Homo sapiens: one gene and its partners. The protein of the gene in region 2 purifies or fractionates together with the protein of the main gene of each other region. This does not show direct contact. Each region holds a gene or a part of one and is shown on either strand. Other genes may lie near its edges. The genes, in order: PGM2L1, COTL1, PINX1, SH3BGRL, TIAL1 and JPT1.

Region 1 (5,576 bases), on a different chromosome or scaffold from region 2:
ACCAACCGAGACTAAGATTAGTAATTTTAGTGACCAACGCAAGTAGCAAATTGACCTCTAATCAATTTAAAACTTATTATATGCCTCATCTGAGTCATGAAGAATTGGTGGCATTTGGTTCCTTTTTTAATTAAATAGGTATTCATCAGGTGTTAAAATCAGTTTCTCTGTTAAAAGACTACATATGCCATCAATATATAATGTAAGAAATGCCATGAGTCTGATCTTATTTTACATTTCTGCACTCTAAATTTCAGTGCCCTGAGACAGTCTAGCTTACCTATAGTATCAATCTACAGTAGATACAATTTCTCCATTAAATGTATTCTCTCCTATTAAGAGAGGATCAATGAAGAAATTTATTATATTTATTAAATAATTAACAAATTACTTAATCTATTCCTCTGTTAAGGATACTTATTACTTGCCCCTATTATTTATGCTTTTCCTTCCCTTCTATTTTCTTTAAAGATATGATCCATATCTATTTCATCTTTCTATCTCTCACAGGTTTCAGCTAATGCCTTATATTCAGAGGCACTTTAAATACAAATTAAGAATTTATCTTCCACTTTCAATGAAGTTTTATCTTCATTATTTTTATTTTGTTTTATTTATTTTTGAGATGGAGTCTCACTCTGTCATCCAGGCTGGAGTGCAGTGGAACGATCTCAGCTCACTGCAACCTCCGCCTCCCAAGTTCAAGTGATTCTCTGGCCTCAGCCTTTGAGTAGCTGGGACTACAGGCACGTGACACCTCGCCTGGCTTTTTTTTTTTTTTTTTTTTTTTTTTTTTGTATTTTTAGTAGGGACGGGGTTTCACTATGTTGGCCAGGCTGGTCTCGAACTCCTGACCTCAGGTGATCTGCCCACCTTGGCCTCCCAGGGTGCTAGCATTACAAGCGTGAGCCACCGTGCCTGACCTCTCTTCATTCTTTTTATGTATCCTATCTTCTAATGAAGTCTTCCTTGAGCATCTCAGTCCACCGTTTACTCCTACTTTTGAACTGCAAGAACTGACTGCCTACAAACCATTTAATTGCCACCAAAACTACCCTAGCATTATTATTTTATGTGCATTTTACAGGTTTCTTTAATATTTCAGTATATCCCAACAATGTATAGGCATAGAATGGACAATCAATAAATATAAATTCATTCAAACAATCTTTTAAAAATAATTCAGGGGCCGGGTGTGGTGGTTCATGCCTATAATCCCAACACTTTGGGAGGCTGAGGTGGGAGAATCCCTTGAGGCCCAGAGTTCAAGACAAGCCTGGGCAACATAGTGAGACCCCATTTCTAAAAAAAAAAAAATTTTTTTTAATTAGCCGGGCGTGGTGGCATGTGCCTGTAGTCCCAGCTACTCGGCAGGCTAAGGCAGAAAGATCACTTGAGCCCAGGAGTTCAAGGCTGCAGTGAGTGCAGTGAGCGGAGATCGCGCCACTGCACTCCAGCCTGGACAACACGGTGAGACCCTGTTTAAAAAAAAAAAAAAAAATCAATCAGGAGACTCATTAGGAAAAGTACAGTTAAAACTGGCACCTAAAGAGAACAAAAAGTCTTGCTACTCCAAGTGTGGTCCACAGACCAGCAGCATTAGTATCACCTGAAAATTCATTCTTTTTTTTTCTTTTCTTTTCTTTTTTTGAGACGGAGTCTCGCTCTGTCGCCCAGGCTGGAGTGCAGTGGCGCGATCTCCGCTCACTGCAAGCTCCGCCTCCCGGGTTCAAGCCATTCTCCTGCCTCAGCCTCCCGAATAGCTGGGGCTACAGGCGCCCGCCACCGCGCCCGGCTAATTTTTTGTATTTTTAGTAGAGACGGGGTTTCACCATGTTAGCCAGGATGGTCTCGATCTCCTGACCTCGTGATCCACCCGCCTCGGCCTCCCAAAGTGCTGGAATTACAGGCCTGAGCCACGGCGCCCGGCCGGAAATTCATTCTTAGGCAGAATCCAAGGCCCCACCCCAGGCCTCCTGAATCAGAATTTGTATTTCAAGATCCCCAGGTGATCTATAAGCACATTAAGGTTTGAGAAGCATTAGTTTAGACTGTAGAGGAAGAATTATTCGTCCAATATACATATGACCAATTAACACCAAATACCTCATTGTAGTTGCTTATTTGTTGGTCTTCCTCATCTGCTAACTGAGGCTTGTTGAGGGCAGGAACCCTTTCTATTTTCCTCACAAGTATTTCCTGGGTCTAACAAGACCTAAAACACGCACTCAGCATTCAATATTTTTTTGCTGAATGAATGAATGAATAAAGTAAAAACAAAACTTTCAGAAAGTGAAGCCTTAAGGAAATTCATTTGTACAACATAATGTCACATACTACCATACAAATTCCTTAATTCAGTGTCATTAATTCCATTTTAAATGTGCTGCCTTCTCTACTTCAACAAAGGTATTTTACGCACTTGACAAAGCAAAAGCTTGGATTATCTTCCTCTGTTGGAGCTACCAGGGACCTCTTTTACAAGTAAGATAGCTGCATTTTAATTCTGATTGTCACAAATTCATCCCAAATGCCCGCACGAGGTTTAATTACCACCACAACTTGGAGGTGGGGGCGGAGGGTGGGTGGGGAGGTGTTGGTAGAGAAGTAATGGTTAAGGCAAAAACAATCCTGTATTAAGAGTACCACATGAAACCTGGAAAACACGATTCCTTGAACAGATTAATTCCAGAAAATAGCTGCCAGCAGGAGAAAGAAGAGGTAAGCGCCTTGCCTTTCCCAACAGCAAAAGGTGATACTAGACAATACCAGGGAGTGATAAAAGGCCAGCAACTACCTAGCGACAGAAGGAGGAAACACACCAGACCAGAACTAAAGCGGATAGCGGTTAGAAACGCCCAGTAAGGGTGCCAGAAACCACTTTCAGGTATGTGGAGAAGGAAGTCAAGGGAGAAAAAGGGAAAGGAAATCGTTGTTTAGGGTATAACTTACAATGATGATGATTTTTTTTTTTTTTTTTTTGAAGAAAGAGGGAAGACAGCACTTGAAAGGAAAGAGGGTAAAGAAGAGGAAGGGAGGTTACAATTGAGAGCACTGCAGAAGGAAGCGATGCAGATGTTGCCGCCCGGCTCTGGCAGTCCGAAGGAGCAACCCCACGCATAGGTGGGTGGCAACGCCCTGCTCCGCTGCCCCCCGCTCGGTGTCCCGAGCCATCTCCTCTGCAGCCCGCGGGGCGCTGGGTGGGCACAGGAAAGAGCAGACTGTGTGGGGGAGGCGACGGCGTTTGCCGGGCTGACCAGGTACCCACCTTATCCCAGCGGAGCCACTGCCCGATGGCCGTGTCCAGCTGAGGGTCCCCGGTGTGGTAGGGGGCGTGGAGCAGGTTGGAGTTCAGATCCCCCTCTGTGTTTTCAGCCATGGCGACCAGACAGGCGTACGGGCCGGGGGCCGGCGAAGACACTGAGTTGGGGTGGGGGGTGGCTTGGGGTTCGCTCACCAGGGTCCAGGCGTCCCCACCTCACTGAAGGGCATCGGAGACCAACCGCAGGGTGTTCGTAACAGCTCCTGCCGCGGCGTCAGGGAACCGGGAGAGAGGGGGTTTATGGCCGCCTGCTCCCCAGCGGACCAGGTCCGGGTCTCTGGGCGAAGTGACTGAGGCGGTCGCGCCGCGAGAGAACAACAGTCCCAGATGTCTGGGTCCTGGCTCCGCCGCCGCCGCCGCCGCCCGCCCCGCCTACGGCCCCGCCCCGCGCCTTAGGCCCCGCCCCTTCCCGCCCTTGCTGATTTAAGTCCCCGAAGTTCTAGACTGGAGCCCGGGAGCGCGCTCCCCACGCCTCCGAAGTAGTGGGGGTTTACAGCCCGTCCGGGTGGTGAGGCAATAGTGCACGGTTCTTTTTATTTTTTAATTTGCCAAGGGTCTCCTTTCCTCGATCTGCTCTCACGGCTACCACTAGCAAGCTGCCTTTGCGCTTGCCCTGCAGGTCCCCAGCGCGCGCGCAGGCCCCCAGTTTCTCTTGGGGGCACGCGCCGGTTGGGGGAGGAGGGGCAGTGCGAGCTGTCCGCGCACTGCCTCACGGGAGTTGTAGTTCTTTCCTTTGTCTGAGCTCAGCGGAGACCGCCGCCGAGACTACGACTCCCAGCAGCTCCGCGTTCCCCCTTTCCTCAAAAGAAAAAGATCTACCTCGAGGTAGTTCCCTACAGACACGCCCTATCCCTATTAGTTATGCTGCGCTGTGTGGCCCTGGCATTAAATTAAACAAGGAATGACATAGTAAGGGGACAAAGTGGTATCCGTTTAGTGCTGTGCAGTTTACGAATCGCGTTCTATCGCCTCAATCCCTCAGTAAGGTACAGGGGCGTAGTCCTTTTCCGTTTCACACACAAAGAAGAAACTGACTCCCTGAGACACCTCTCCTAAGAGGCCGAGTTCGTGAGCGGTCAAACTAGGGTTCCAATCTCATTTCAGATCCCCTCAGCTGGCAGTTATTTTATTAGGTCGGTGCAAAAGTAATTGCTGTTTTTGCCATTAAAAATAATGGCATTAAAAGTAATGGCAAAAACGGCAATGACTTTTGTACCAATCTAATATCTCTGCTGCTATAGTAAACTAGGAGGTAGGGAGAACAAGATTACTGGAAAATAGATAAGGAAGTTGTTGAGGGAAGATGGTCGGCATTTAACCTAAATATAAGAATGTATAAGCATCACAAGATACCAAGAGCAATGGTAATGGGAATACGGAGGAAAAGGAAATTGGTTCACCCAAATTGAAATAGTCTTCCGTTACTTCTTAGCCGTCTCTCCTATGGAAAGCTCACCTAAGTTGAGGTCTGGGAAATGCTGAGAAGTGCTGACCTGTCAGCCACCTAGCTACTCCTCCGTTTCTTGGTTTGGCCTTCTTAGAATGGCTATGATTTTGGGCAAGTACATTACAACTCTTTCCCTAGTCAGCTTTTTTGTAAGGAAGGTATGATAATATTTACATCATGGCTGTACAGTAACTTAATAAATGGCATTAGGCTGCTTTGAGGTTCACAGATAAAAGACATATTAAGTTCAAAGTATTACTTTATTTCCTTTAAAGTGCCATTTACCATAATAAAATTCAAACTACCAAGGTACAAAAGGATTGTGGTACCAGTTTCTGAAAAACGTGCCATAGTTGGGAGTTGCAGTTTTTGCTAACGATTGTTTCTTTTGTGGAGTCAGCAGGACTCTTGTTCTTTTAATCACACAAGGCCTGGGCAACAGTCACGTGTCCTGGAGAGAAATTCATCTTCCACTACCATCACCATTATTATCCATGATACATATTAAACATTTACTCTCTGCTAAGCATTATGGTAGGAGCTGAGGCTACAAGAATCTATATAATTGTTCACTTCGAGAAGTAACATCTGAGGAGACAGGATATATGTAAGAAAAGAAAGCCCATGATAAATAGCAAGTGCTGCCAACAACTGTTAATGAATTTACATCTGAGGTGGTCAATGAAAAAAGCATCAAGCAGGAGGGACCTGCACTGGGCTTTCAGAAACAAAATAAACAAGTTGAGAATAAGATAGAGGATATTTCAAACCCATAGATCAGTGGTTCTCATATCTCCCTAGGAGTTT
Region 2 (4,183 bases):
CATTCAATTTCTCGTTTTTGTTTTTTTGCTTGTTGAGAATTCTAACATTAATTGGACATTGTCCCTGACCTTTTGGGTTTCTATTTAGGATTTGTTTTTATCACTTAATAACCAACAATGATGACATTTTATCGAATGTCTAGTATATTTGTTCCAAGTATCATTTCAATTACACTTAAAACAAAGCAGTGATGTCAGTTATACTATTTTTCCCATTTGAGGAGTCATTTAAAAGAGGTTTTGAGGCTTTCCAATGGCCCCCAGTTGGAAAGTGGCAGTACTGGATGCAATTCAAGAGCCCAGTCTTCAGGATCCTGCCTTTTTACCTACCTGGACGCTGTAACTGGTCTCTGTGGAATGGCTGGATGAGGGAATGAATGAATGAGTCAGTGAAGGAATGAGGAAGACAGAATGAGTCAGCTCGTGCTTTCAGAGGAGCCCAAAGGGAGAGGTTAAGATAGGAATGCAAATGACCAGAATCCAGAGTAAACGCGAGCCCACCAGCGTTTTGGAAGCAGTCCACTTTCTACCCCCTCCTATTTAAAATGCTTCATTCTTTCCAGTTCCTCCCCACCTAGAATCCATGGAACCAAACGCTGGGGTAGGGACAGTGGCCAGCCTGTCTCCTTGGGTTTGACGCATTACATCATCCACGTGGAGGTCCCCTGTGGAGCTCTGCAGCCCTGCAGCCTCAGGGGCAGGGGGGTGGGGAGAATGAGGAAGGGGGAGAGGGGGAATAGGAGGAGGGAGTAGGGGACAGGGAGGGAGGAGATGCCAGGAGGGTAAGTGGAGAAGAGGGAGGCGAAGCCGGGGGCAGCAGGGGAGGGGGTCAAGGAGGAGGAAAGAGGAGAGCTTGGGGAGAAGGAAATAGGGAGGATGGAGAAGTTTTGGGCTGGGATAGGCAAGAAGAGGGAGGAGGAGAGAGGAAGAAGAATAAAGGGGGAAGGGAGAAAGAGGGGGAGGGAAGGGAGGGGGAAGAGGTCAGGGAAGTGGGGGAAGCAAGCAGTGGGGGAAGAAGAGGAAGGAGGAGGGAGAGGAGGAAGGCGGGGTGGGAAAGGGGGTTGGGGTAGTGGGAGTTTCCAGGGAGGGGTCGGGAGGGGAGGAGGGGAAGTGAGAAGGAGAAGGAGAGAGAAGAGGGATGTTGGGGGAGAAGAGAGCGGGAGGGAGGAGGGAGAGTGAGAGGGAGGAGGCAAAGCCCCTACTCCAGCCCCCACCGCGGAGTTGCGCAAGCCTTCCGGTCTGGGATTGGCCGCCAGAGAATCAAGACGCTCCGCCCCCGCAGCCCGACGGCCAATGAAGAGGCGGGCCGCCGCCTGGGCGGCCAATGGGCGCGGGGGGGCGGGGCGGGCCACGGCCTGGGGTCCCCGCGCGCTCTCCGTCCGCAGTGGAAGCCGCCGCCGCGCTCGCAGCTTGCAGGCGCCGCGTAGCCGTCGCCACCGCCGCCAGCCCGTGCGCCCTCGGCGCGTACCCGCCGCGCTCCCATCCCCGCCGCCGGCCAGGGGCGCGCTCGGCCGCCCCGGACAGTGTCCCGCTGCGGCTCCGCGGCGATGGCCACCAAGATCGACAAAGAGGCTTGCCGGGCGGCGTACAACCTGGTGCGCGACGACGGCTCGGCCGTCATCTGGTAGGAACTTTTCATTCGTCTCCACGCCCCGCTCCCCGGGCTCGCGCGGGGCCTCGTGCACCGAGCCGGCCTCCAGGCGGGACGGATTCGGGCCTCCCGCGCTGTCTTCCTCGCCTTATTCCGGGACGGCGTGCCAGGCCCCCGCGGGCTTCTCCGTGGCCAGCGCGTCTGTTAGATTGTCCTCTGCAAGCGCCGCGTCGCGCGGCCACCAGCGCTGATGTGTGTGTGTGTTTTTTTCTTCTCCCAACCCAAAGGGTGACTTTTAAATATGACGGCTCCACCATCGTCCCCGGCGAGCAGGGAGCGGAGTACCAGCACTTCATCCAGCAGTGCACAGGTAGGGAGGCGCGCCTGCCGGGCGGATGCGCGGTCGTTGGGAGGTTGTCTGCACCCGGGGAGCCCCGGCCAGAGCGAACCCGGGAGGAACCGGTGGCCACATGGGGTGCCCCTGGCGCATGGCGTGGGAGGAACCCGGTGTGAGCGTTTTAAGGCCTCATAAAACCTTCTCCCCTCTGGACATCCGAAGCAACAGAAGTGACCCACCTGCCTCCGCCATCCTACAATGCCTTCTCCAGGCGGGGCAGCTCTTTTGCCCCCTGCGGTCCACTGGTTTTCTAAGGTCAACTCCTGTGTTTCCAAACTCCAGTGTCCATCCAGCTCTTCCCACTGTCCCCTTTGATCAGTCACTGAGCCCAAATACGAACAGGCTAGGGGGCTGCTTGGAAGGGAAAGAAACTCAGCCGCGCCCTCCTTTCTCCCGCTATCATTGTCTGCCCGTGTGCTGATTTTATGTGATTTTTAATTTGACGAGTAGAATCAGATGCAAAAGAGTACACACCATATGATTCCATTTAGAAATCCTAGACAAGGCGAAACTAATCTATGGTGTGAATGTCAGAATCGAGATTAGCTTTTGGGGCTAGATAGCCACTGATGGGGAGGGGCACACCACCCGGACTGCTGGGAGCTGAAAATGTCTCTGTAGACATTTGTTGATCTGGGAGGGGGTTATGCAGGTGTGTACCCGCGTGAAAAATCATCAGACTGTATACTTAAGATTTGTGTGCCTTAGGCACTTCCCTGTGGCTTGTGAACCATGAAAAGAAAGACCACGTGGCAGGCATCGCCATAAACCCTTCGGTAGTGGCAGAGGCTCTGTGATGTTGGTAATGGGACCTTTTAAAGAGATTGGAGAATGCGACTCCCTCCCATCTCTGGTCTTTAGTTGGAAGCAAGCTTTCGGACAACGGCAGCACAGCCCGGAGGTTACGGCGTGGACCCTGAGCCAGACGGTGTGGGTTACTTATTTATTTATTTATTTATTTATTTATTTTTGAGACAGAATCTTCCTCTTTTGCCCAGGCTGGAGTGCAGTGGTACAATCTCAGCTAACTGCAACCTCCGTCTCCCGGGTTCAAGAGATTCTCCTGCCTCAGCCTCCTGAGTAGCTGGGATTACAGGCGCCCACGACCACGCCTGGCTAATTTTTTGTAATTTTAGTAGAGATGGGGTTTTCACCATTTTGGCCAGGCTGGTCTCTAACTTCTGACCTTAGGTGATCTGCCCACCTTGGCCTCTCAAAGTGCTGGGATTACAGGCGTGAGCCACTGCGCCCGGCCGACGGTGTGGGTTCGAATCCCTGAACGGCTGCTTCCTGGCTGTGTGGTTTGGAACGAGTTCCTTAATCTCTGGGGGTCTTGGTTTCCTCACCTGCACTCTCACAGTGCTGTTGCGAGGATAAGTGAGTCAGTATGTATAAAATGCTCAGAACAGTGCCTGTACAAGCTACATGATTGTTTGCGAAATAAATAAAAAGTACAAAATTGTGCCAGGGATCATGTGGGTGTTTCTTTCCTTAACTGCTTCCATAATCAAATTATATTTTGCATTTAGTTCAATTCAAAGGGTATTTGTGGTGTGACTACTAGAGGATGGGTGATACTGAGAACCCGCGTGCGCGCACACACACACACACACACACACAAAACTAAAATTACTCCTTGAGCGCTGCCTGTAGACATTCATTCATTGCTTTTGTAAACAGTTGGCCTAAAATCGCAGCATAAAGCACTGCAACGATGTGGAGAGTTGGCAGGGCAGGATTTGAACCCAGGCCTCCGTCCCTCCGCCTCTGTAGTTGAATGCTTTTGCAAGTGGAGTAAGTGCAAACTCTTAACTTTCTCCCCTCCGGTCCGTGAACAGCCAGGAGAGTCAGCAGTATTTCTGCTTTGCCGGCTCTGAGGCTATGCTTTACAGACCAGCTTCCCTCCCTAAATTCAGCTTCTTTCCTCCCGCTGGTCACCCATCCCTCCCTTCCCCCATCAAACCATGTTCTGCCTCTGAAGCTACTGTTCTCTCCAGCAAGTAGAAGGGGATGAGGAAAAGAGCATCCATCCCATCAGGAGGCTCCTGGCAGGTGCTCCCAGGCCTCAGCCCACTCTGGTGTAGTGGGAGAACACTTCCCTCCTCCCACAGGCTTGTGGTTTTCTGCTCAGACCCACCTCCTGCCCCCCAGGGATGGGAGTGGGGAGTGGCGCGTGTCTGGCGAGGAAGCTAAAA
Region 3 (3,500 bases), on a different chromosome or scaffold from region 2:
AGCTGACCCTGCAGAGAGTCCCTGCGGGTATCAATTACAATACACCACAGTCCTCTCCGGTCCCTGAAAGATGCCTGAAGCTACATGTATCAACTCTTCTCGGATGTCTACAGAATTAAAGTCTGTTCTGCTTCTTTTAGGATCCTCCATCTGGAGACTCTGCAGCTACATGAGTGAGTATCTGCGCAAGATCCTCTGGGCTCATGGAGGACTTTGCTCTTGTGTCATTCAAACATGTATACTGAGATGGATTATTAGTACAATGCCCAAATAGAGAGGATTCTCCATTATTCTCAAAAGAATCTTTTGGGGCAAGGAAATGAAGCAGTTTGCACAGAGACCTTAGTGAAGTGCCAGAAGCAGATGCACCTTACTACAGAATCCCCCTACTTATGATCAACATGCCAGTCCAGGAAATGGGCTTCAAAGGCAAGTCTTTCAGCTCGCCAGCCTTGCTCATACATCACTACTGATCTTAAGTGACAGGATGATGGAAGCTTTCTTATTTCCACATTAAGACACGGAGGTCATGCTGCAACAGTAATCCTTCAATGAACTTTGTTAACAAAGTAGACTCCCAGAGATCAAGGGTAATGTATTTAGCAACTGGGGTTGTGAGCCCTGATGGCTATTGCCTGTGATGAACAAATGCTCACTGCCACCACAGCCTGTCTGTCATCAGCCTGTGCTGGGTTAGTCTGTGAAAAGTTAAGAAAGCTTGGCAAGTGAGTGGTTTGACAGAACATTCTGTACCTTTTCCAAACTTTTCAGTGGGGCAGTTCTGACAAACACAAATTATGTCTTCATGTATCCCTTCAGGTATGAAGTGACTGTGTGTGACTCCTCAAAACAAAGGGATTGTGGAGACCCCACCGTCAGCTGTGTGTGTACTTTAAACTCCTCCAACAGAAGGGGCAGGATGAACTGACCCAGTCACTCCCTATGCTGGCCTACGATGTTCTTCCACATCCCCTGTACACAGTCCCGTGCATCACTTTCTTGAAGATCAAGTGTGTGACTGCTTCCTTCCACAAGTCCAATCCCAAGTGAACATCCTTTCTTGTTTATTCCCCATAATAGCAACTTGTTGCTTCTATTTTCTGTATTTGTTTAATTTGCTTTGCTAGCATCTTCCCAAGGAAACAAGTTTCTTGAGGACAGGGGCCATTTATGTTGCATTTGTATTCATACAATCCACAACCTCCCTAATGAGGAACAAGGTACAGTAAGTGCTCAACAAAGGCACAAAGACACCAAACCCAGCTGGACCAAGGCTGTGAAGAGCTCCCACCACCACCCACTGGCCCCAAATGCTTTGTGTTTGTCAGTACGAACTTGTCTGCACATCAGGCAGGTCTAATGTCCAGAAGGGGTGTGGGAGGGTAAGAAGAGAATCAGCATTTTGAGTGCAGATTCCTCCCATCCACATGAAACCACCCCCTTCTCATCAGATAGCACCTTCCCTTGCCTCGTGATGCAAACTGCTTCTCTAACTACTGCAGAGTACATCTGAGTGTCGTCTGCTGTCAGCCAGTTCCTTCCTGGCCCTTAGCAATAAATAGAAACTCAGTCCAGTGATCCATCCATTTCTCCTTCTGCTCTGTCATTCCACATGTTACCACAGTTGCCTTGGAGGGGACAAGTCAATTGGAAAAAAGCAAGGTACTGTGTGGTATGGGAACTGCCACGTTCTTTTTGTGGGATTAGTTGAACACAAGCAATGCCAGTAGAGACTGAACTGTTCTTGCTAAAGAAGAGAACTGTTCTTGGTAAAGAGAAGAGAGTTCTCGTGCATACCACATACAAAGGTAAGCAGCTCATTTGGAGAACAGCAGTGGGATGGAAGTTCCACCAGCAGCCTCTGGTAGCAAGCTGTGAAGGCACAGCCTACATTATATCTTAGCTGAAAACAACCTGGGCAAGCTGATTCTAGGGAGTCATTGAAATGGGTTTGCCACTGAAGGCTGAGCTAGGCAGTGATTCACGGCCGTTCGTTGGAAAGCCTGCCCTGAGCCACTATGGCGGGCGGCCCTGCTCTTCTCTCTATGGAACCTCTGTGGTTTCATGCTTTTCCTTCGTGGTTTCCATGTAACTGAAAACACCCAGTGTTTTATTGATGAACAGCTATTTTTACACTCACAAAAAGCTTTTCAAGTGTGAAATCTTGTACATTTTTCAAGACATTCATCGCTCACATCTGGAATTAGGCTAAACGCACCAAGTCTCGGCAATGAGCAGCCTCGGGGAATTTGCCTGGGAGACACAATCAGTTTTAGCATTAGCAAGTATCACAAGAGTCAAAAACAAATATAAAACCCCATTGACTGAAGAGAGTTGTGATTTGAAGTGGTATTAAAAAGCAAAGATACAATAACAGAATGAGAATTATGCAGCAACTCAATTGGAAAACACAGAAATTGTGTGTGCGTGCACATGTGAAACAGGTGTAAGAACCTGTGGCATGTATTAGAAGCCCACTCTGCAGGGGTTCCAGAGGGTTCTCTCTAGAACAGAGACTGGTGAACTATGGCCGTGGGCCTAGTTTTTAATGATTTTTTTTTTTTTTTACCATTTCTAAATGGTTAGGAGGAAACAAAAAACTATTTTATGACATGTAAAAATTACATGAATTTCAAATACCAGTGTCCTTAAAGTTTTGAATTTCCTCAGTAAAAATCTTGTAAAAATTTGTTTTCTTTCTCATTATACAAGTACATACAATAGGTGCTAAGTAAATATTTACTGAATAAATGTATTATAAAATCGGCTCTGTGACTGTGAATACAATACGGCTGACTTTTGGAAGTGGCAGGTGCTTTTCCAGTGCACACACACAATATACCTTTATATACACACATGTACATATATACACGTATGGAACTGGAGGACGCTGGGCTTTGACAAAGTCCTCAAGCTCTGTCTCCTGCCAACGACAGAATGCCTACCTTTCTGAACTGTGTCAGCAAGCAGCAGAGAGGCTGCTAACTGCTGCCTGCTTTTGAGTAGCAAAAGCCAGTAAAGAAAAAATTTGTTTAAAAAGTGATGTGACATCAAAGAGCACTCTCAGCAACCCAGTAAGTATGCAGAGATACCTTTCTAATATCAGGCATCAGAACTCCGCTTGGAAGTTACAAACTCAGACACACCGGACATTGGAGAAGATAATACGAACTAGAAGGGACAGAATAGCTTGGCTGGACTTTAGTAGAGAAATACACAGAATGCCAAATTCCTCATATGAAGGCCAATGGTAACAGAGCTGTTAATTTTATGTCTTTTTATTTTTATTTTTTCCCATATGCCTAACCAGCTATTCCGATTGCCACTTATTAGGAAAAGCCGACATAAACATGTTTTAAAAGGATGGTTCTCTATGGCAACAGCTTCTCAAGTAATCAACATCAGGATCACTGACAAGAGTCATCCAGCCTCTGTGGAAAAAGAGGAAAGAGAAAGAGGAGCAGGCTTCCTGCCTCCCTGAAAGGCCCTCAGGCTCGGAA
Region 4 (4,876 bases), on a different chromosome or scaffold from region 2:
TTAAAGAATTTTTTAATTTCCATCTTGATTTTGTTTTTAACCCAATGCTCATTCAGGAGCAGGTTATTTACTTTCCATGTATTTCCATGGTTTTGAAGGTTCCTTTTGGAGTTGATTTCCAGTTTTATTCCACTGTGGTCTCAGAAAGTGCTTGATATAATATCAATTTTCTTAAATTTATTGAGGCTCATTTTATGGCCTATCATATGGTCTATGTTGGAGAAAGTTCCATGTGCTGTTGAATAGAATGTGTATTCTGCAGTTGGATAAAATGTTCTGTATATATCTGTTAAGTTCATTTGCTCCAAGGTAGAGTTTAAATCCATTGTTTCTTTGTTGACTTTCTGTGTTGATGACCTGTCTAGTGCTGTCAGTGGGATATTGAATTCCCCCACTATTATTGTGTTGCTGTCTATCTCATTTCTTGGGTCTATTAGTAATTGTTTTATAAATTTGAAAGCTCCAGTGTTAGGTGCATATATGTTTAAGATTGTGATATTTTCCTGTTGGATAAGGTCTTTCACCATTATATAATGTCCCTCTTTGTCTCTTTTACCACTGTTGCTTTAAAGTTTGTTTTGTCTGTTATAAGAATAGTTGCCCCACTCTCATTTGGTGTCCATATGCATGAAATACCTTTTTCCACCCCTTTACTTTATGTGCCTCCTTATGTGTTAGGTGAGTCTCCTGAAGGCAGCAGATAGTTGGTTGGCGAGTTCTTATCCATTCTGCAGTTCTGTATCTTTCAAGTGAAGCATTTAAGCCATTTACATTCAATGATAGCATGGAAATGTGAGGTACCATTGCATTCATTGTGCTCTTTGTTGCCTGTGTACTCTAGATTTTTTCATTGTTGTTTTTTGCTTTTGCTTTCAAGCTTGTATTTTTGTTTTATAGGTCCTGTGTGATTTATGCCTTAAAGAGGTTCTGTTTTGATGTGTTTCCAGGATTCCTTTCAAGATTTAGAGCTCCTGTAGTGGTGGCTTGATAATGGCGAATTCTCTCAGCATTTGTTTGTCTGAAAAGAGCTGAATCTTTCCTTCATATATGATGCTTAATTTCACTGGATACAAAATTGTTGGCTGATAATCATTTTGTTTAAGGAGGCTGAAGATAGGGCCTTAATCCCTTCTAGCTTGTAGGGTTTTTGCTGAGAAATCTGCAGTTAATCTGATAGGTTTTCCTTTATAGGTTACCTAGTGCTTCTGTCTCACAGCTCTTATTTCCTTTGTCTTAACTTTGGATAACCTGATGACAGTGTGCCTAAGGCGAAGATCTTTTTGGAATGGATTTCCCAGGTGTTCTTTGTGCTTCTTGTATTTGGATGTATATATATCTAGCTAGGCCAGGGAAGTTTTCCTTGATTATTCCCCCAAATATGTTTTCCAAGATTTTAGAATTCTCTTCTTCCTCAGGAACTCCAATTATTCTTAGGTTTGGTCGTTTAACATAATCTCAGACTTCTTGGAGGCTTTGTTCGTATTTTCTTATTCTTTTTTCTTTGTCTTTGTTGGATTGGGTTAATTCAAAGACCTTGTCTTTGAGCTCTTAATTTCTTTCTTCTACTTGTTCAATTCTATTGCTGAGACTTTCCAAAGCATTTCGTGTTTCTAAAAGTGCATCCAAAGTTTCCTGAATTTTTTATTGTTTTTTTCCTTACACTGTCTATTTCATTGAATATTTCTCCCTTTACTTCTCGTATCATTTTTTGGATTTCCTTGCATTGGGCTTTGCCTTTCTCTGTTCCCTCCCTGATTAGCTTAATAACTAACCCCCTGAATTCTTTTTCAGGTAAATCAGGGATTTCTTCTTGATTTGGATCATTGCTGGTGAGCTAGTGTGATTTTTTTGCAGATGTTGAAGGGAACTGTTTTGTCATATTACCACTGTTGGTTTTCTGGTTCCTTCTCACTTGGGTAGGCTCTGTCAGAGGGAAGGTCTAAGGCTGAAGGCTGTTGTTCAGATTATTTTGTCCCATGGGGTGCTCCCTTGATGTAGTACTCTCCCCCTTTTCCTATGGATGTGGCTTCTGTGAGCCAAACTGCAGTGATTGTTGTCTCTCTTCTGGGTCTAGCTACCCAGCGAGTCTACCCAGATCCTGGTTGGTACTGGCGGTTGTCTGCACAGAGTCCTGCGATGTGAACCATCTATGGGTCTCTCAGCCATGCATACCAGTGCCTGGTCTGGTGGAGGAGGTGGAGGGTGCAATGGACTCCGTGAGGGTCCTAAGCTTTGGTGGTTTAATGCTCTATTTTTATGCTGGTTGGCCAGGAGGTGGCGCTTTCCAGAAACCATCAGCTGTAGTATTGCGGAGAGGGACCCGCAGTAGGCAGGGCCCTAGAACTTCCAAGATTATATGCTCTTTGTCTTCCACTACCAGGGTGGAAAGGGAAGGACCATCAGGTGGGGGAGGGGCTGGGCATGTCTGAGCTCAGACTCTCCTCGGGTGGGTCTTGCTGTGGCTGCTGTGAGGGGTGGGGGTGAGATTCCCAGGTCACTGGAGTTCTATACCTAGGATGGCTTCCTCTGCTGAGTCAGGCAGATTGTCAGGGAAGTCCTGTAAAATCAGCAGTCACAGGCCTCACTCAGCTCCCAGGTAAACCGAAGGGTTGGTCTCACTTCCACCAAGCCCCCGTCCAACAGCCCTGAGTCTGTTTCCAGGTGGAGGGCAAGAGGGGCTTAAAAATTCACCCAAGGCTATCCACCTCCCAGCTGCGAAAGAAAAGGGTTTTGGTTCTTCCCTTGCCTGTGAAGTCTGCAAGCGAGATTTGCACCCTCCCCCGAGTTCTGGCCAGGAGGCTTCTTCCCCTTTCGAATTGTTACAAAATTTGGCTAGAGAATTCCTTCTTTCTGTGGAGTTTTAACCCCTGCTCCTCTGGCCACCCTCCCGATGGATCCCTATGGTGCCAGGCAGAAATGAGCTGCCTGGGGACCCAGCGAGATACCAGGGCCTTCCTGTTGCTTCCTTTACCCCTGTATTTCGCTGGGCTCTCTAACTTGACTCAGCTCCAGGTAAAGTTGGAAACTTCTCCCGCAAACAGACCTTCAGTTTCTCCAGTGAGGGTATCTGTTCGGGAGAGGAGGGTCTCCCTTTTCCACTTCCTCAGTTGGGGCACTCACAGTATTTGGGGTGTCTCCTGAGTCCTACATGAGCAGTCCACTTCCTTGAGAGGGTCTGTGGGTCCTCTCAGGATTGCTGGTTTGTTCTTGCAGTCTATTTGGGGCTAAAATGCACAATGCAAGCCTCCAGATGCTGCTCTGTCTGGATTGCAGATGCTGCAATCTAGTACTCTATCTTATTTAAAGAAAAGTGCCTTACCTCACTTTTCTTATGGCTCAAATTGTACAAAGCCTAAAATATAAGATTTTATCCATGGGAAAAGAAAGTTCGGCAAGAAAACCATTTTACAATGACATGAACACAGTACTAGTAAATTTTTGTCTAGTGAAAACAGACAATAACACAGCCTTTTAAAATAGGAGAGGGAATTGGAGTTCAAAGAATCTGTCTAACATACAATTAGTTGCTAAGAGCAAAACATAAAATGACAGAGCAAGAGACACGCATTTTGATTAAGGCAGTTTGTGTGAAGAACTACTATAAAAGGCAAAGGTATGTTTAAAGTTGATAGTTTGGGGACATCTCACTAGACAGGCAACTTTATTGTTGCTTTCTTTATTTGGTCTCTCCTGAAAATGCTGCTACTTAAAAAATTAATTTGTGTTGGCAGGAAAAAAGCCTCAAATTTGGCGAGCAATTTAGTGACCAGTTTTGCAATGCAGATGCTCTTAATTAACTTGAATGGATGACTCTATCATTTGCTCTCACACAAAGACAATAAGTGCTGCCAAGGAGATTACCATGAACTAAGATGCTTACTGTCGATGTAGAACCATGCAGGACAGCTGGAATAATGAAGGCTTTAAAATTGCTAAGCACTTATCTGTGCATAGGTCAATGAGAAATTTGCTCCCATGGGCAGCTTGATGGGGAAGTCACTCTACCTACCTGCTAAACACATAGTTTATGCATTTGGTTATGCACATCTTTCTGCCCTAATAGGAATTAAGTGGATGCAGAGAAGGCACTTTTTGCTATAAAGGATTGTCTCTGACTTAATTTGAATACTTAACAAAAATGAAAATCTTACTGATTAAAAAAGTTCAGCAGCAATAAAATGACCTATAAAACAGGAAAAAAAGGGTATCATACCTTTGAACCAGGTGGGGCTGTCAAGCCTAAGAAGGCATACACTGCATTATTTTCTCTGGCTTCAAAGAAGGCATCATAGTCCTTGATGAAAAGAAGATAAGATGAATTAGCAATATGCAACCAATAAAAGAAAAAAAGGAAATTTATTCAGCCGAAAGCAGTGGCTCACGCCTGTAATCCCAACACTTTGGGAGGCCGAGGTGGGCGGATCACCTAAGGTTGGGAGTTTGAGACCAGCCTGACCAACATGGAGAAACCCTGTCTCTACTAAAAATACAAAAATTAGCCAGGGGTGGGGGCACATGCCTGTAATCCCCGCTACTTGGAAGGTTGCGGCAGGAGAATCGCTTGAGCCTGGGAGGCGGAGGTTGCAGTGAGCCAAGATCACCCCACTGCACTCCAGCCTGGGCAACAGGAGGGAAACTCCATCTCAAGAAAAAAAGGAGATTTATTCAGAATGACCTGACTGGTCGACAGAATCATCTACCTCCTTGGGGACAGAGAGACTAACTTCCATAATACTAGAATTCTGGAAGGAATAAGGAGTAATAAAGAGGCAAGGCTTCTGGATCTTATTTAATATAGGTTGAAAAGTATGCTATTCTATGTCACAAAAACTGCAGAATGATTTATTCCACATCACATGGAATTTAACTCTGCCTG
Region 5 (4,876 bases), on a different chromosome or scaffold from region 2:
ACCTAACCTCTAAATTCTCAGATTAGCTCATCTGTCCTAGACTTGGGCTTTACTTCTAAATCCATCTGACCTTTACCAATGTACAAACACAATTTTAATAATCTTCCTTATAGTATAATCATTCTTTTTCTAGCTATTTATTTTCGAGTTTATGAAAGAGGAATGAAATTATACTCTATTATTAAAACATACATAACATTACATAAAAGTTGTGTTTGTAGTTAACATTCAAGTATATTCAAGTTTCAGATTCAATACATTAAGTAACTAATGACTAAATTTAGTATTAAAAAATATAAATTGAGATGGAAGAACGTACCAGTTTGTTATAAAAAGATACAAAACCATAGCCTTTGGATTTTCCAGTTGCCATGTCTTTAACTACCCGGGCATCCCTGTGAAAAGAAGCACAGCTAAATGAGGGAAGTAAGAGCCACCCTCAAAATAAAAACTAAAAGGAACCACACACACTGTATTGTGAGCATTTTTAAAATAAAATTCCAGTTAGCCCTAATTAACTACAACCATTCCTGAACTCTCCCTAATGCTTCTTTACCTGTTAGAAAAAAGCAGTAGGACAAAAACATGTAATAAACATGCAACCTAATCAAATAGCCTGTGCTTTCTAAACTAAATGCTCAAATTTGAAGATTAATAGGAACAACAGTTTCCCTTTCTAATATTCTATTTACTAGTGTCCTCTAAGGTTTACTGATTCTATAAATTACTGTAACAATACTAACTACTTTACCATGCAATCTCTAAATAGTTAAATGTCTTCTGCCTAGTGATACAAAATATATGAAATATTAAAAAATTGAAAAAGAGGAAAAAATAGGAATTAAAAAGGCATACATGGCCTGTTAACAGATTTCTTTATTTTTCTTGGTCAATTCTCTACCATCATTTTGGAGTTTGGGCAGCTGTAAATTTTGAAAAATTGACATTTTCAGAAATTTAAGAAAGGAGAATAAAAAACTAACAACAATGCTAAGCACACCAGTACGAAAACAACAAATTTACACAGAAATTTTAGTGAGTAAGTTAAATGATTGGAAATATAGAACTCCACTGAATATAGAATGTTAAAATGTAAATACTAAAATATGTATATATAAATAATGTATAATAAGAATAAATAGAAATGAGAAAAAAAATCTACAACTGAGTTCCAGTGTGCACAGTTCCTTGCAGTTAGCCTTCAAGATCCTGTCCATTCTTATGAGCAATTCTGCAAAATAACCAGAATGCTATTACTTTTAATTGTGACTTGGACTTAAGAAAAACTGCAGGTCTCAGGTATAAATAAAGATTGAAAAACAGCAACCTGTATTATTTTTATATTGATTTTTAAAATAGTACTACTTACCACATTTAGATTAAAAAGCAAAGCAAATATCAAAACAGAAAGTTAAGAATTACATCTTTTAAAGAAATTAAATCTATAGAACAACAAATTGTATAGAGAAAATATTGTTGTTCTTAGTTGAAACACTTTCCTGTAAAGTAGTACTAAGATGTTTAATTTAAATCTACAGGAAATATACAAAATAAACTGATTTTAATCAGAAAGATAAATTATGATAAACATTTTCTACAATTCATAACCATTTTTAGTTTTCCAATATATTTTTTACCAAGTAACAACAGTAAAATCTGAGCATAAATTTGTTAAAAATCAAACCACATTTGCCTCTTAACTAGTAGAATCAAATATCACTAACAAAAACATCTAATTAATCCCACATTTATGACTCATACATTGAAACATTTTAATAGTATAATAGTACTTTTCACTTATAGCTAAAATATCAAAAACACATTTATCATAATAAAACATGAACATTTCCAATTTAATCACAATATATCCAAGGATTTACCTACTCTCCCCCATTTATAAATTCCTCCTATAAAAGTTATTGAACTCTTACACAGTATAGATCACATTTACTTTTGATTAACTCATTATCCTAAACCATCAAATTTTGAAAACATATGACAAAAAGCTAGACTTTATAAGTTTTACCATTCAAACATCTGCTTCAAAGATAACAAACAGAATCACTTAAATTTTTTTTAACATATTATACACAGGATTAGATGAAAACGAGACCCCAAGACACTGAAATGACATTAACATTTTCAACAACATCCACTACTCAAAACAAACCAAAATAAATAAATGAAAAATAAGAAACAAAACAAAACCATACTAACTAGAGAAAGAAAATCTTAATTCAATTACAAGTTAATCATATACAATTCTGCCTATCATGACTGAGTGTAGTACTGATTATGATACTTACGATATTTTACCAAAGGGGGCAAATGCTGATTTGATATCTTCTGTTGTAATTTCTGGACTCAAATCCCCAACAAACACATGGAAGTGATCTGAAATCAGAGCATTTGGTAATCAAATACTTAAGAAGTCAGCCACTAAAACCTTTTTAAGGCAACTCTAGAGGAGGAAAAAAAAACCTATTTAAGCTGGTAATGCCTCCTGGATAATTTCAGAACTCTTCCACAGTAAAATGCAGCAGGAGTACTTACTGGAAGTATCTTTTTTCTGGCTACTTGGTGTGGTTGCCCAGTTTACTTTGACCTCCTAAAAATAAAGATTATATTTAATAAAATTATTAGGCATGTCATGAGTTACAACACTTACCACTTATTAAATCATTTATCAAGCAGGGTTATTTTTGTAAAAGCACTAAGCTGAATAAAGCAAAACCATCACTCAGCAGCCGAATATCTGCTCAAAAATTTGCCTAGAAAGAATACAAACTAGTTTGACATGCAAATATATGTACTCATAAGGTGCCATCATCCTATTATCTTACCTTTCCCAAAATTTTTCTCCCATTCATAGCAGCTAATGCAGCAGCTGCATCTCTGTGTTCATAAAATTCCACAAAGCAATATGGGTCATTGCTTGTATGCTGCAAAACAGAAAATCCAACAGAAGAGTTGACCCTTCTGCTATCGGGTTGCTGAGAAGAAAATCCAGGAAAAAACATTACTGATAGCTGGGAATATACAAGGTGAGACTGCATAAGCTTATGAAAGCCTAACACTTTTTAAATAAGATTTAAAGCTAAACCTGACTTTGCACCTCAGAATACTGCTGAACTCAAACGGAACTATAAAAGCAGTTGTAGAATCATGAGCATCAGTATTAAATGAAAATAAAGAATTCTGGTGAAGTGTGTTAAATATAAAATAGAAGATTATATTAAACCAAACAAAACCTCAAACTCAGATCTGATGAGGACCACTCCTTACCACTACTTTCCTTCTCCAATATTATTTTTAAATTACGTTCTACTTATGCATCATAATCCTCTATAAGTGGTATCCCAGGATACAGAAATACAGCAAGAACCAACTTCATAAACTACTGATCAAAATTAGGATCAATACTACAAATGATGGAATTCTATGCTGCTACAAAGACTGAATTTTATTGATTTCTTTTCTGGATATGGAAAGAATGAAAATAAAAACAAGAAAACTTAAGCTTTATAACCAGCTACTGAAATGAATTCCCTACCTTCCAAAATAGTCTAATGTACTGAAGATTCTATATACTTTGAATTTGGTCTTCCAAAGATCAGAGAAATAACAGTGGTGATCAAGAAAAGAGGTTCTGAAAATGTATCTGAATAAAATATTCCAAGACAAAGCTATAAGTTTACATCATAAGAACACCATATAAAAAATCTATATTAAATATATTCTGCAACCCTGTGCTTGACAGTAGTTACCTAAAACACATTTATAAAGATGTGAAGAAAGTAGTACTACCTAAGCTATAGCAACATTCTCACCTGACAACCAAACTAGAAATGAATTTCTATGAAACTGCAACCTGTACTGAATAGCTGCACAACTGTACAAATACATATTTTTATGTAAGGCTAAAAACATTCATCATTATTCAATGTAAAATGCCCTATAAGAATAATATTTAAAATGTGGAATTCTAGTTGGACTTACAAGGGATAAATATACCAGATAAAATAAAGATCTTTTCAACCACAACAGTTTTTCATTCCAGGAAAGTTTTAGAAGAAAAATCCAAAATAAGACGTCTAAACAATAGTGGCAAAGGAACCAGAAGGCATTTCCTTGAGGGAAAAAAAGTGGGATCGTTAATACTGACAACAAAACTATGGGCTCTCATACAAAATCCTACTGTTGTAGCCACGTGAATGCTGTTCTTAAGAGGTAAAGAAAGGAAATGGGGGAAGACTTCAAATGAAAACACACATTTAAATTCTTGTAAAAGAGTTATTACATTTACCATAAATATTCATTGAAGAAAGGACATCAAAATAAATAAGAGGCTAAAATTGTGCTAGTTGAGTTTTCCTTTCACTCCTATCTCTTTTGCCCCAATGGTCTCTAAGGAAAACACTGATAATCACAGCAAAACATACAGGGGTCCAACAGCAGATCTATGATAATCCCATACACTTTAGGAAACTAGTCTACTCGTGAATACCAATTTCAAATCTATCTAATAGTAGGCCAGCTCCCAATCAATGTATGCACGTGCATGTATATATACACATATATTCACTGACATCACATATTTTATATATTCACATCACACTGCATATCATCTAATTTAAGACACCACTTATTTCTAAGTCACATCCCAACTGTCAGATATTAAAATTCTAAAAAAATTTGACTTAGAATCAATAATATATATTTGTATTATATAAGGAAAGCTAGAATCTATGATAACAACATCTAAAGTAAAAAAAAAATCATAAAACTATGGGGGAAAAAGGATTTTTCACATACTGAAATGAAATTTATGAAAGAAAAATAAATAGCTGCTAGATACTCTGCTAGAGTTTATACC
Region 6 (5,358 bases), on a different chromosome or scaffold from region 2:
TGCGATCTCGGCTCACTGCAAGCTCCGCCTCCCAGGTTTACACCTTTCTCCTGCCTTAGCCTCTCGAGAAGCTGGGACTACAGGCGCCCGCCGGAACGCCCGGCTAACTCTTTTATTTTTAGTAGAGACGGGGTTTCACCGTGTTAGCCAGGATGGTCTCCATCTCCTGACCTCATGATCTGCCCGCCTCGGCCTCCCAAAGTGCTGGGATTACAGGCGTGAGCCACCGCGCCCGGCCAAGAAACATTTTTCTAAGAATATTTAGCACTTCTATCTGGGCGTGGTGATGTGAACCTGTAATCCCAGCTACTCCGGAGGCTGAGGTAGGAGAATCGCTTGAACCCTGTAGGAGGCGGAGCCTACAGTAAGCTAAGATCACACCACTGCACTCTAGCCTGGGCAAAAGAGTGAGACTCCGTCTCAAAATAATAATGATAATAATAATAATAATAATAAAATTAAGGTCAGGAGCGGTGGCTCATGCCTGTAATCCTAGCACTTTGAGAAGCCAAGGCAGGCAGATCACAAGGTCAAGAGATCAAGACCATCCTGGCCAACATGGTGAAACTGTCTGTACTACAAATGTACAAAAATTAGCTGGGCGTGGTGGCACATGCCTGTAGTCCCGACTATTCAGGAGGCTGAGGCAGAGGCAGAAGAATCGCTTGAACCCGGGAGGCAGAGGTTGCAGTGAGCCAGAGATCATGCCACTGCACTCCAGCCTGGCAACACAGTGAGACTGTCTCAAAAAAATAAATTAATTAAAAAAAATAAGGCAGGGCGCAGTGGCTCACGCCTGTAATCCCAGCACTTTGGGAGGCCGAGGCGGGCGGATCACCTGAGGTCAGGAGTTCGAGACCAGCTGGACCAACATAGAGAAAACCCGTCTCTACTAAAAATATAAAATTAGCCAGGCGTTTTGGCACATGCCTGTAATCTCGGCTAGTCGGGAGGCTGAGGCAGGAGAATCGCTTGAACCTGGAAAGCAGAGGTTGCGGTGAGCAGAGATTGTGCCACTGCACTCCAGCTCGGGCAAAAAGAGCAAAACTGCGTCTCAAAAAAAAAAAAAAAATCAAGAAAAAGACACTAGTACCCGAACACCAGCTTAAGAGCAAGTCAAAACTCTAACCAGTCCCACTTTTTAAAGGTCTCTGTTCCTCCTGCAATAGCAGGTAGTAACCAACTCGGATGACGTCAGTGTTGTAGAGACCATTTGTAATAGTGAGATATCCCCAAACAAAGGATGTAGATCATAAGGCAGAAAGTATCTCAATGTTTTAGGATCCTACTATTCTTTCAGAATCATACACGACAACTAAATCAGGATTATATATTTAAGACTGAACAAAAATGTGTCCATGTACTGTAAATAGCAATTTTTAAAAAATTGCTCCTTTTCTTTCTTCTCTCTTAAAATCCTGAAGTTTCTGTATATCTTTGCAGATCATTCCCTACCAGACTAAATTTATAACGAGTTTATGGGGCCAGGAGAACATTACTGGACAAAATTAAGTTTATGAGAATTAGGTGAGAATATAGAAAAAGGGAAGGTAGAGAGACAATAAAATGACAATGCTACTACAGTCCCTAGAGCATAATATTGGAGGGAAATTGATGACGAAAGGTGAATTAAACATTCATTTCACAGGATCAGAACTCATTTGTCTCACATTTCAAATGTACACATGAAAAACTAAGTGTGAGGATTCATTTGACCTAATTACTGAAATTCTTTACAAAACACTAATATCAACTCAACCCCAAAGAATAAAACCCCAGATTACACATTATCATTCCGACGACTGAAGTCTAACCGGCAGAAAGTTGGCCTCGTAACACAAAATGAAAAACCAAGGCTCAATCTCTTCCTGTTCTCTGAAGAAATCATCTCATTGGAAAGAAAACAGAAAGGGAGCGACCAGTTTCCTAGGTCTGTGCTACTTAAGTACCCCATCCTCCCAGTAATCACCAATTTATTTTTTTAATCTTACCTAGTCTTTTTGACCTTGTAAACCTGAAAGTATTGAGTTGTAAAGGAATGTCATTTCCCATGCTTTCCTCCTAAGGCTCAATTGCTGAGTGAGGCGTGCTTTTTGTTCCCAAGTTCTCTAACCCCTGTGAGATATGGCTATTTCACGTGTCTTCTTAGCCCCACAAAATGGCTCCCTTTGTGCCACTTGGCCAGGACCCCGAGGGTAGCCACACATGAATGCAGGTCATAATCGATGTAAAATACATGCTCAAAAAAGTGATTTAAGCTTCTTCCAAGCCTTGAAGAGGATCCCAGACATAACTGTAACCCACCTTAAAGAACAGTGTGCAATTAGCTGAGACAATGTGGACACCTTCCACAGAATCCAAACCCTTCCACCAAGTAAGTTAAGCAAGGACTTGGAAAAGGGTTCCTGTCCAAACACTGTACCCAGTGCCCCAAGCCCAAAAAGCAGTGGGAAGAAGGGCAAGAAAAATCCCCCGCTTCCCAGGTAGCGCTACCACGTTAGAGACAATGGATGTCTCCGGCCCCGCCCAAGAACAAGAAACCTCCTCCTGCAAGGGAACCAGGGCCAGGGATGAACTCACTGGGCAAACGTCAAAGGAGGAAGCGAAGGTAGGATGCAAAGGCCACGGTCCGAAGGTTTAAGCGCAGAAAACCCACTCGGGTTGGCTCGTTCCCCGCGCCCGCCCCCGCCCCCCGCCTTAGAAATGAGCGCAGGGATGGGGAGAAGGGGTCTTTCCTTTGTTAGGAAGGGGAGACACTTGGAAGAGGGGAGGCACTTCGAAGAGGGGAAGAACGATTGGGTCCTCAATGGGGGGTGAAGGGTCGCGATGACCAGCCCCGCTCGACCACACATGCACCTGTCAGGTAGGTCCGAATAAGGAGTGGGGGCACGGCGAGGGTAAGGAGCCCGCCGGACCTGATCGATCCGGTCTCCGGATCCAATGGCTGCGCGCGAGAGCGAGACCAACCGCATGCCACGGGGGAGAGACAGGAGCGCGTGGCCCATCAATGGGACAATAGGACCTGACCATGCATGGGGCCCTAAAGGATCCCCGGGCACCTGGGGGGCCAAGCCCACCACCCTGGGGATGCACCAGCCGGGATGCACACAGGAGAAAGCGAAGCCCTCCCCGAAGGTTCCGATTAACGAAAACCGGCCGTGCTCCGAGGGGCGACCAGCCCCGGCCTCCTCAGCCCCTGACTCCGTGGAAGGAATGAATGGAGAGCAGCAGGGACCCGGGTGGGGCCGGCGCGCAGGGCTCGCCAGGCGGCACAAAGGCGGCGCCGACGGCAGAACCCCGCCACCCGCCCCGGCGCGAGCACAGCGCACGGGGCTCGTTACCCGCAACGACCGGCGCGAGGCCCCGCCGGCAGCGGCCCTCCCAGCCCCTCAGCCCCGCGCGGCTCGGGCGCGACCCGGTCGCCTCACCGGGAGCTATTCCTGCTGTTGGGGTCGACTCCCTTGAAGGTGGTGGTTGTGGTCATGGCGCCGAGGAGCGAGGTAGGCTGGCGCCGGAGCAGAACGCTCAAAGGGTCGGACCCGAGGGGCGCTGGGAAACTCCACACCCAACAGCCGACCACCGCTGCAGGAGCCGCCGCTGCCGCCTGTCCGGCCGATCGACGCCTTTATAGGGTTTTCAACCCCCGCCCCCTAACCCGCCGGCATTGGCCGATTCAAATGAATTCTTTCATTCCTATTGGCTCTCTGGAGTGCCAAGCACCATGCGGCATTACGATGGGCTGTGGCGGCCACGGCTCAGCCTAAGCCCGCCCCCTTCCTGGACTGGGAAGGCCTTGGGACTCTCTCCCCTCCCCCACCCCAAAATCTCGGCGATGATTGGACGGAAGGCGAATCTACCTCGCGCTGGGTGGAAGTCGTGCTGGCTGTCACTGTAAAACGTTACCTGACAGAGGGGGAAGCTCTTTCTTGGGGAGTTACAACCTCGGCAAGCAGAAGGGAGATTTGTCACTGTTACTGTTCTCTCATTTGCTTTACTGATGGTGGGATAGTAAGGGCATCCTCCTTAAAGGATGAAAAGTACTGCAACAAGTTGACATTTATCTGTTGAATACCTACTGTGTGTCCCATTTAGAAACCTAATAGTCTCAAAGCAGCCGCACAATGAGTCAGCAACAGAGAGCGCACCAAGATGATCCCTTTTAAAAGGACTGGAAATTCCTTACATTTTAATGTTACTGTTTAGTTGTAATGGGTGGTGCATGTACTGGACCAAAATTACAGTCGCTCCTATTTGGGGGCCTATTCTAAGGCTGGTTAATGCCTGGCACCAGGAATGGACTCATTCCCTGCTACCAAGACTATGGAAGCAGCTCAGGCCTCTGCAGCTGTTTATAACCCTTAAGTCATGACTCTTCCACCTGTCTGGGTAAATCTATCCATGCGACAAATGCAGACACACTTGGAGGATTCAGGAATGATGGTTTACAAGATCATAATAGGAAAGCCTTGGGCAAAAGAGGGCAGGCCCTTCTCATGTCTTGCATATTTCCTCAAGGCAGATGTCTTTGCTTGTCTCAATATTTCCATAATAATTGAACCACATTCCTCTTTGCAAAGCCACCTTTCAGGTAGTTGGAAGTTTGTATTCTGGGCAGTCTAGGTTAACCACCCTCCCCCCCCGGGCTTTCATGAAAAGCCAGTGAGAAGTTCTGTTCTAGAAAGCACGGATGATGCATTTATGTGCTTACCACAACAGCACGAAGCGCACCACTTGTTTGTGTTAGAATCTTCCCTTCTTTTTTTCCTTTCTTTTTTTTTTTTGTTTTTGAAGTGGAGTTTCGCTCTTGTCACCCAGGCTAGAGTGCAATGGCGCTCAATGCAACCTCCACCTCCCAGGTTCAAGCGATTCTCCTGCCTCAGCCTCCGTAATAGCTGGAACTACAGGCGTGCGCCACCACCCCTGACTAATTTTTGTATTTTTAGTAGAGACGGCGTTTCACCATATTGGCCAGGCTGGTCTCAAACTCCTGACCTCAGGTGATCCATGCTCCTTGGCCTCCCAAAGTGCTGGGATTACAGGTGTAAGCCACCGCATCTAGCCAAAATCTTAGCTTTTTTTTTTTTTTTTTGAGACAGAGTCTTGCTCTGTCGCCCAGGCTGGAGTGCAGTGGTGGCGCGATCTCTGCTCACTTGCAGCCTCCACCTCCCGGGTTCAAGCGATTCTCCTGCCTCAGCCTCCCGAGTAGCTAGGACTACAGGTGCGTGCCATCATGCCCGGCTAATTTTTTGTAGTTTATTAGTAGAGATGGAGTTTCACCATGTTAGCCAGCATGGTCTCAATCTCCTGACCTCGTGATCCACCCACCTTGGCTTCCCAAAGTGCTGGGATTACAGGTGT

What was found.
Region 1: the proteins of COTL1 (region 2) and PGM2L1 fractionate together in Homo sapiens (co-fractionation; one large-scale study listed by BioGRID). This does not show direct contact.
Region 3: the proteins of COTL1 (region 2) and PINX1 purify together in Homo sapiens (co-immunoprecipitation; one large-scale study listed by IntAct). This does not show direct contact.
Region 4: the proteins of COTL1 (region 2) and SH3BGRL fractionate together in Homo sapiens (co-fractionation; one large-scale study listed by BioGRID). This does not show direct contact.
Region 5: the proteins of COTL1 (region 2) and TIAL1 fractionate together in Homo sapiens (co-fractionation; one large-scale study listed by BioGRID). This does not show direct contact.
Region 6: the proteins of COTL1 (region 2) and JPT1 fractionate together in Homo sapiens (co-fractionation; one large-scale study listed by BioGRID). This does not show direct contact.

The regions. Positions count from the first base shown.
Region 1 is NC_000011.10:74,394,783-74,400,358, forward strand, and holds the start of PGM2L1 (glucose 1,6-bisphosphate synthase), read right to left. Parts: upstream 3,652-5,576; 5' UTR 3,380-3,651; coding exon 3,269-3,379; intron 1-3,268. UniProt on the Homo sapiens protein: Glucose 1,6-bisphosphate synthase using 1,3-bisphosphoglycerate as a phosphate donor and a series of 1-phosphate sugars, including glucose 1-phosphate, mannose 1-phosphate, ribose 1-phosphate and deoxyribose 1-phosphate, as acceptors.
Region 2 is NC_000016.10:84,615,279-84,619,461, reverse strand, and holds the start of COTL1 (coactosin-like protein), read left to right. Parts: upstream 1-1,383; 5' UTR 1,384-1,547; coding exon 1,548-1,624; intron 1,625-1,878; coding exon 1,879-1,961; intron 1,962-4,183. UniProt on the Homo sapiens protein: Binds to F-actin in a calcium-independent manner. Has no direct effect on actin depolymerization. Acts as a chaperone for ALOX5 (5LO), influencing both its stability and activity in leukotrienes synthesis.
Region 3 is NC_000008.11:10,770,376-10,773,875, forward strand, and holds part of PINX1 (PIN2/TERF1-interacting telomerase inhibitor 1), read right to left. Parts: intron 2,536-3,500; exon of another isoform or gene 141-2,535; intron 1-140. UniProt on the Homo sapiens protein: Microtubule-binding protein essential for faithful chromosome segregation. Mediates TRF1 and TERT accumulation in nucleolus and enhances TRF1 binding to telomeres. Inhibits telomerase activity. May inhibit cell proliferation and act as tumor suppressor.
Region 4 is NC_000023.11:81,277,749-81,282,624, reverse strand, and holds part of SH3BGRL (adapter SH3BGRL), read right to left. Parts: intron 4,295-4,876; coding exon 4,214-4,294; intron 1-4,213. UniProt on the Homo sapiens protein: Appears to function as an adapter protein that bridges proteins together or proteins with mRNAs. May function as a ubiquitin ligase-substrate adapter.
Region 5 is NC_000010.11:119,579,616-119,584,491, forward strand, and holds part of TIAL1 (nucleolysin TIAR), read right to left. Parts: intron 2,994-4,876; coding exon of another isoform or gene 2,943-2,993; coding exon 2,844-2,942; intron 2,609-2,843; coding exon 2,554-2,608; intron 2,395-2,553; coding exon 2,307-2,394; intron 1,232-2,306; exon of another isoform or gene 858-1,231; coding exon of another isoform or gene 856-857; intron 396-855; coding exon 320-395; intron 1-319. UniProt on the Homo sapiens protein: RNA-binding protein involved in alternative pre-RNA splicing and in cytoplasmic stress granules formation. Shows a preference for uridine-rich RNAs.
Region 6 is NC_000017.11:75,150,914-75,156,271, forward strand, and holds the start of JPT1 (jupiter microtubule associated homolog 1), read right to left. Parts: upstream 3,600-5,358; 5' UTR 3,485-3,599; coding exon 3,429-3,484; intron 3,331-3,428; exon of another isoform or gene 1,992-3,330; intron 1-1,991. UniProt on the Homo sapiens protein: Modulates negatively AKT-mediated GSK3B signaling.